Linked DNA regions of Homo sapiens. The protein of the gene in region 2 interacts with the protein of the main gene of each other region in a pairwise test. Each region holds a gene or a part of one and is shown on either strand. Other genes may lie near its edges. The genes, in order: C14orf180 and TEX29.

Region 1 (3,806 bases), on a different chromosome or scaffold from region 2:
GGCGCCCAGGACATCCGCTTTGGCCACTGAGGCCGATTCCTTAGCAAATCGGTTCTGGTTTCTCTCATTTCTATAAAAACACCAAGACTGAAGGAAGCCACGGTGTGTTTTAATAAAACAGTGTCTCCCAGTTAAGTGGTGGGACAAACAGGAACCACCGGGTGGATGGTCGGCCGTGCCCACCCGCCTCAGGCTAACCTCGAGGACGCTGGTCTGATTGTCCCTGTGTCTCTCCTGGGCAGTTCTGCCTGGTGTCTAACCGTGGGCCTCCCTGCTTTGTTCAGCCCTCCCCCCACGTAGGGTCTGGAGAGGCCCCTGGTGTTTGTCATCCACAGGGCTCCCTTCAGCTCTGCAATCCGGCGACAAAGCCACAACCACAGACGGTCTCCGGGACCCACAGGCCCCAGCTGGTGGGTGGTGCTGGCTGGCCCCGGGCTCAGCTGGGTGTGCCTGGCCTGCAGAGCTGGGCACAGATGGCTGTTCTGAAGGTCGGGGGTGTCTGGGCCCCTTGCTGTCCCCTCGGCTTCTACACCTGAAGCCGCCCCTGATGAGGGGTCCTTCCCTGGGGCCTCTCCAGACTCACGGGGCTGGGTAGGGGGGTCAGACCTGGGCTCAGAGGATGGCACCTCACATCAAAGGGACCCACCTTGACAACCAGACCCTTCCCTCCCCGTGGGGTTTCGAGGTCTGGATTCCCCACAAGCCATAATCGCAAAAGGCTGGGTTTGCCTCCTCCGAGCAGCCCCTTGAACACGGGCAGTGTGTCCCCCTCCTCAAGAGGGTGCACACGGTGATGGCCGGGCCAGGCCCTAGCAGCAGCAGGAGTTCCTGCTGGGACGAGGGAGGGGTCTTTGGGTGAGCCTGGGGAGCCTCAACTGTTAGCAGTCGAATCCTCTTTCTAATAAAATCTCACATGGACCCAACACAGGAGACAGGAGGGCTGTGCTGACTAGTGTGGCGGGGCCGCCTGCTGTGCCCCCCATGTCCGATCTCACGCCACGGGGTCCCCCTTTTCCTAGTTAGCCCTCAGGCAGCAGCCCCTTTTGGCCCCCATGATTCACCAAGCAGCAGGGCCAGGGCTCAGGCTGTCTCGGAGCCCCCGGAGTGCTTGAGCTCTCCTGGAAGCCCTGCCCGTCCTGCCCGTCCTGCCCGTCAGAGCCGCAGGAGGCCGCGCCAGCAGGTGAGGGCCACGTGCCGCAGGTGCAGGACAAGGCCGAGGAGCCGGGCCCGCAGGTCCTCCAGTGCCGTTGCCACGGGCTTGGCCCGGCCGCAGTATAGGCCCAGGGCCAGCACGAGCAGGACGCACACACACAGCTGCAGGAGCAGGGAGCCGCCGTGTGGCCTGGGCCGGCCGGGCACTGCGGCCAGAGGGCAGGCAGGGTCAGCGCCAGCCAGCGCGACCCTTCCCTGGAGGACTGGGGCTGGTGGGGAAGGGATGGGGAGATTCCACCCTGTCCATGCCCATGGCCCCTCCCTAGCCTCTTGGGGTCTCCTTGCAACAAGAGCTCCCCAACTGGGGACTCCTTAGAGGCCCTGGCCCTGTGACACCTCCCTCGGGGAGGGAGTGAGGGTGGGTGCACCCACGGAGGGGGCAGTGGGGCACAGGGATGTGGGCTCAGAACTCACCCCTGACAGTGGCTGTGGCGTTCTTGTCAGCAATGTCTGCGAAAGAGAATGGAGAGTCAGCTGGGGGCACCTGCCTCAGTCCATCGGGCGCCCCCGCCCTCTCGTCTCACCCTGCACCCCCGAAGGACCCTGAGACTATTCATCAGTGAGAGACCCAGGCCCAGCCGGTCCTGACACTTCCTCAAAGGGACAGTCATGATTTGAGAATCCGCCCTCATGTTCTCCTCCAGTTGCTGTTTCATGGACCGGGACTGTGTGTCCAGATGACCCCAGGGGCCCAGGTCTTACAGGGGTTGTGGCACTGAAGGCAGGTGGCCACGGCCCCCCCATGTCCTGGGCCCTGCCAGAGCTGTGTGGGTGTGGCCGGTGTCCCCGCCTCCCTCTGCTTGACTCCACCCTCTCCCAGCTGCTTGCTGCGGGTGCCCTCTTACAGTGGACGGTCACCGCTGGGGGTTCTCGGAACCACACGCGCCTCGAGGTCCTCTGGGGCTTGGCCTCTGGGCGGTGGTGCTCCGGCCGGCTCCGTTTCAGGATGGAGGGGGGGCACTTCCTGTTGTCCTCCTGGTGTGGGGGCGGGAAGCAGACTGGTGAGTCCCCGGCGGGAGGCCGCTGGTACCCAGGTCTGAGCCATGTGGGGCCCAGCAGCACCGTCCTGGAACCTGTACCCTGTCCTGGCTGGTGCGCTATGCTGGGCCTGTCACTTCCTGTAGGGTGAGGGGCAGCTCCTGGACAGGGACTGCAGGGCAGCCAGACTCAGCCTCAGGGGCCCAGGCAAGACAGGAGCCCCTCCTGACCCCGTCTCTTCACGCAAGTCCCCACTGAACCTCTCTTCGTCTGCCCGCTGTCTCGGATGCAGGCTGCTGGACAGGGTCCCCAGGACATGTGGACAGGGGGAGGGGGCTGCAATGGCAGAGGGGCTCTGGCTAAGGGGCCAGAGTTTGCAAGCTCTATGGGGCAGGGGCCGGGCCAGGGCCGTGAGGAGGGCTGGTTGGTGGCCTCGGCCTCCTTTTCCCTGGGGCCGAGCCTCCCAGGCTGCAGGCGGGGGCAGCTCCTACACATTTGCCTACCTGGGCCCTTTCTCTGCTGGTCTGCTCACGTGTATGGGCCCAGCCTGAGTCTGGAAGATGGAGTGGGAGTTTCGGGCTGCTGTGAACCTCAGCATCCTTGTCTGTGACATGGTGACAACTGGGGCTGAGGCACCCTGGGAGCCGGGCCAGCTCTGAGGTTGTTCCTGGCTGGGGCATTGCTCGCTGTACACAGCCTGCTGCTCGGCATCTGGCGAGGCTGCCCCGCGAGGGCGTGAGGCCTGCCCATGCTGAGTCTGGCCCAGCTCCTGCTGTGCCTGTGGCATGCCCCAGCCTGGCAGTGCCTCAGAGGCTGGATGGAGCCTCAGGGTCTGAGGTCTGGGCCCCTAACCCTAACACTGACCCTTGGTGACAGTCTTGACCTGTCCTCTCTCCACCCTCTTCCCTCCTCCAACACCCTCCTCCCTGAGCTGCCTCTTCCACAGCCCTCCATGGCTCCCACTTCCTCTGCCAAGCTGTGCCCCACCTGGGGGCCTCCAATCTCCTCTGCCAGACCAAATCCTTCAAGGCACCCATTGCCCCCCGCTGCTCCCCCCAGCCCTCAGTGATCCCCCTGCCCTCCTCCTATCACCCCCTGATTCCTGGGGTGGAGGATGGCCTTTCCACGTCTGTTGCTCCCTGCCCCCTCCAGCCCCCAGTGGAAGGCCAGCTTGCAGAAGCTGTGTCCCAGCGGCCCGCCTTACCCTCTCTGCCCTGCACACCCGCGGGCCCCACGCGGCCTCCTCATTCTTTCTGGTCTGACGTCGTGTCTCTGGCCGGGAGTCAGGGCTCACGGCTCCTGCTGCAGTCCTCATTTACTGGAACATGGTCCTAAGATAAGCAGAGACGTTATTTATTATTTACTGCACAAGTGGCACTCAGAGGAATGAAAATAAGAGGAGGAGAAAATTCTTTCCTGGAAGCCAGGCTGGCTTCCCGGGCTTGCGACCGGCCACGCTGTTGAGCAGACACCACTTTTCCTCTGTGGTGTCCCCAGTGCAGGTAAATCCTGTTCCCTGCTCGTTCAGAAATGCCATCGCAAGCAATTTCCTTTGCTGCCACGGTCTTCATAATTATCATCTTTAATGGCTGCATAATATTCCACTGGGCCGAGGT
Region 2 (3,806 bases):
ATAGATGGGTCAACAAAATGCGGCATACCTATACAGTGGACAATGACTCCGCAATAAACAGAAAGGAAGTACTGATAGCTACTACAACACGAACGAACCTTGAGAACTACGTGAGTGAAAGAACCACAAATCATGTGGTTCCATTTATATGAAATGTCCATAATACGGAAGTCCATAGACAGATGAGTGGCTGCCAGGGGCCAGAGAGAGGGAAGGATAGGACACGACTGCTAATGGGCGTGAGGGTTCTTTCTGGAGTGGTACAAATGTTCTGGAGTTAGTGGTGATGACTGTACAACTGTGAATATACTAAAAGCCACTGAATTGTATACTTTAAAAGGTGAATTTTATGGTATAGTATCTTGGTAAAAATAATAGCTGAAGCAATTTCCAACCGATTTTATCTGTAGTCAGAGGAAGGCGTGAGATCCTGGGAATCCCAGAGGCTCCTGGAAGTGGAGGCTGGGACAGCGAGGGGTCTGGTCCCGAGTCTCTAAAGCCAGGATCTGCAGGAGCCGTCGTCATCAGAAAACCTTCCCAACTATCAGTGGTATCCATTGTGACCTCTCATTTGTCTCTGAGGAGCGAAAATTCATCTTCTTTTGATGAGGTGCCAAATCCTCACCACGAAGCAGGACAGACACCCTCTCTGGAGCAAGCCAGAATCCCATCAGCACTTTCTTTCTTGACTGATTTTGTGCCCAGAATATCCCTTTCATCTCAGAGGAGCTGGCTTAAGGCTTTACGTCTGTAGGACTGGGCAGTCCCCACGTAATCAAACAGTGTAGCCTGAAAATGAGTTTTAAAACTTTTTTTTTCCTTTTTCTCTTCTTCCCCTAGTCTCACGATGCAGAAAGCTTACTGCAAAAAACTTTTGTTCTCCTTAGTCTTAAAATATAGCCTTGAAATGTACTTTCTTTGCAACACCATGGTCTCCCTTTCTCACCACGCGCCCCCTAGCCCCATGCACATTTATCTAACTGTGTGCTGGTATTTAATTATGGGCTTACTTACAAGTTCTAGGGGCTCATCTTGAGATAGACCAAGCATAGAGAACCAGCTGCAAAATGCCAGAGATCACCTGAAGGCGGTGAGTCTACAACCAGCCATCAAGATGATGACACCTCCCGCTCCAGGTGGGCTGTGGCTTGCGACAGCCACTGGAACGAGACCCTCAGACCTTGTAGAAGCACCCCTCCCATGTGCCTCCCATTCTGAGTGCCTCTTTTTAAGCCCCTCTTCCCAGCCTAAAGTTGGAAGCGCAAGTCAGCCACTTCCCCACTGCTAGCTTTGGAAATAAAGTCACTTTCCCTTCATTTGTTACAGGCTTTGCAAGCGGTGAGCAGCCAAGCTTGTGCTAGGTTCCACCAGCAGGTCACTACTTGGAAATTTCCATCAGTCACTCATTCCCATCAGTCACTAACGTTTCCCGACTTTCTAAGCCCTACTAGATACAGGGAACGAAGAGGACCTGGTGCCTGGTCTCTGAAGGCTCAGTCTAGCGGGAAATGCAGGAGAAAGAAGTAAAAGGAAGAAGAAGTGGCCCTGAGCTGCACAAAGCCAGGGGCCTTTACTCACTTTGGGGTGGTGGGGGTGGAGAAAAGAGTGGCTTAGGACAGGGAGGGTTTGGAACTCATCTCCAAGGAAGCCTAGAGCTGTGAGAGCTCATCAGCCACGTCCATCATCTCCACCGGTAAGGGCTGCACTGTTCCCTCCCGAGGGCGTGCTGTGCAGGCTGCTCCCCTCCGTGCTGCTGTCCACCCCTCCCCACGCAGCACAAAGAGCCCCTTTACCCTCATTTCCAAAAGGGGCCTCCACAGGACAAGGAAACACATGAAGCTTCACGTGGACCTTGATGAGGGTTTGGAAATGAGAAGACCTCAGCGGCGCAGGCCAGTGCACTCACAGGCGAGAATATGCTGAGGAGGTGGGAGCCCAACGCCCTTCACGCGCAGGCCATCCTGGTTTCTTAACCTTCTCCCACCTCCCTTCGAACACATTTTACAACTAGCCATGGTCCTCTGAAGGGCGCGCCTCCCTCCGGAAGCCTTCACGGGGATGGGGAGTGGCAACGCCTCCGGCGCCCTTACCCACCCACTGGTTGCCTGTTGTCCTCACTTCACCCCGTGCTGCTTGAGGGGCTTCCAGCAGATCCTCACGTCTGGTCTGGCTTCTAGTCTGACGTTGAAGCAGCCCACGGAATCCCCAGTCAGGGCCAAGCTCACAGAGCCCCTGGTGGACAAGGTCCGCTCCACCCTGATGGGCTCACCCCACACCCGGCCACTGGCCCGGGCCCTGCCGGCGCCCCATGTTTCTGCAGCACTATTTCCCCAAATCCAGCCTCTGCAACCACCCAGAATGGCCAAATTCCTCCATGAAGGGGGCCTCCATTTGTCCCCGTCCATGCCCTGCTCAGCCCATCTGGGAATGGAACCCCTATGGTGGCTTACGTCACATTCACAGGCCCTCCAGCCCAAACCCCACTCCAAGTCTACTGTCCCCACTAAGACGGAGCAGAAGAGTTGGCCAGAGAACAATACAAAGGTGTTTCCAGCAAACAGAGACCCCGAGGAAGGGAGACAGGCAGGGCAGTGGTCGGCATGGTCACCAGCTACCTCGGCTTCCGCCACGGGGTGGCCGGGGCGTCTACTCACTGGGAACCGCTTTCTTGTAGCAGACGCCTTCGTAGAAGCAGCACCCGAGCTCCTGGCATCGGTCCCTGGAGACGTTGTAGTCACAAATGTCATACAGAGGAACGTCACACACTGCAAAAGCACAGACATACACAAGTGTCACCCCCGAAAACAAAGCCACTCTGCTCTCCGCTAAAGAACCTGGGAACCGGTGTGGGGAGCAGCTGTGGGTTTGTGTTGTGGTTTTGTTATTTTCTCAATTACGCATCCTGCAAATCTTTATTTGAAACTAAGATCCAGAATGAATTAAATTTCTGAGCAAAATAATGTCAAGTTAATTACACAGAATAATGCAGGGGCCTCTAACGATTAGGAGATAATACATTTCCGCGCAGCAGCGCCAGGCACGGCGCACGACAGAGCCCACAGAAGCGCGGGGCTCACACAATGGCTGCTTGGGAGTTCGGGAGGGAACGTGTAATTATTTCACACTTAAGCATACAGGAGTTAGAATTAGCAGCATGGCCTGAGGATTATTTCAGAATTTTAAAACTTGAATCAAAAGGACAGAAAGTTTAATGCCAGTTTTGACCCAAAGGGAGAAAAAGGGAAGACAATGAGTGTGCGGCGCGCCGTGGGAGGTAAAGGAAGCAGGGCGGGGAGAGCTCCTGGCAGACGACCCTTTCCAGAGGAGTTCAGCAGCCTCACACATGTTCAGCCCCGAGGGATGTGGCTGCCTTGATCGGCCATGGGCCACCGAGGGACTGGGCTGGATGATGAAGGGGGTTCCTGCAGGTGAGGGCCCAGGGTGCCCGCAGAGACCTTTGCTGGGTGGACTGCAGTCCCACAAAGCCAGGCTCCATGCCCCAGGCCAAGGCTGCACCCAAGCCACTGGGGGTCTTCCCTGGCCCCTCTGTAAGTTGTTCCACTGGGACAGGGGCCGGGAGGGGAGCTGCCCGGCCTTCTTGACCCTTGAGGAGCCCCATTTGTGTTCCTTAGGGTTGATTTAGTCTTTCAGGTTCCCCTTCTCAAGACACCCCCATTCCAGGTTTGCAAATGCTGCGGCTGCAGCCCTCATCCTCTGTCAGAAGCATCATGGACACGGGAGCCCTGCCGAGGCGATGCCGCACCTGCCAAGGCAGAGTGCACAGGGCAGGCTGAAGTCACCGGCTG

Evidence for each region.
Region 1: the proteins of TEX29 (region 2) and C14orf180 interact in binary tests that used the Homo sapiens proteins (3 or more experiments, as listed by UniProt).

Annotation. Positions count from the first base shown.
Region 1 is NC_000014.9:104,586,130-104,589,935, reverse strand, and holds part of C14orf180 (nutritionally-regulated adipose and cardiac enriched protein homolog), read right to left. Parts: intron 3,522-3,806; 5' UTR 3,506-3,521; coding exon 3,395-3,505; intron 2,188-3,394; coding exon 2,058-2,187; intron 1,663-2,057; coding exon 1,627-1,662; intron 1,359-1,626; coding exon 1,153-1,358; coding exon of another isoform or gene 1,058-1,152; 3' UTR 1-1,057.
Region 2 is NC_000013.11:111,327,142-111,330,947, reverse strand, and holds part of TEX29 (testis-expressed protein 29), read right to left. Parts: intron 2,766-3,806; coding exon 2,655-2,765; intron 1-2,654.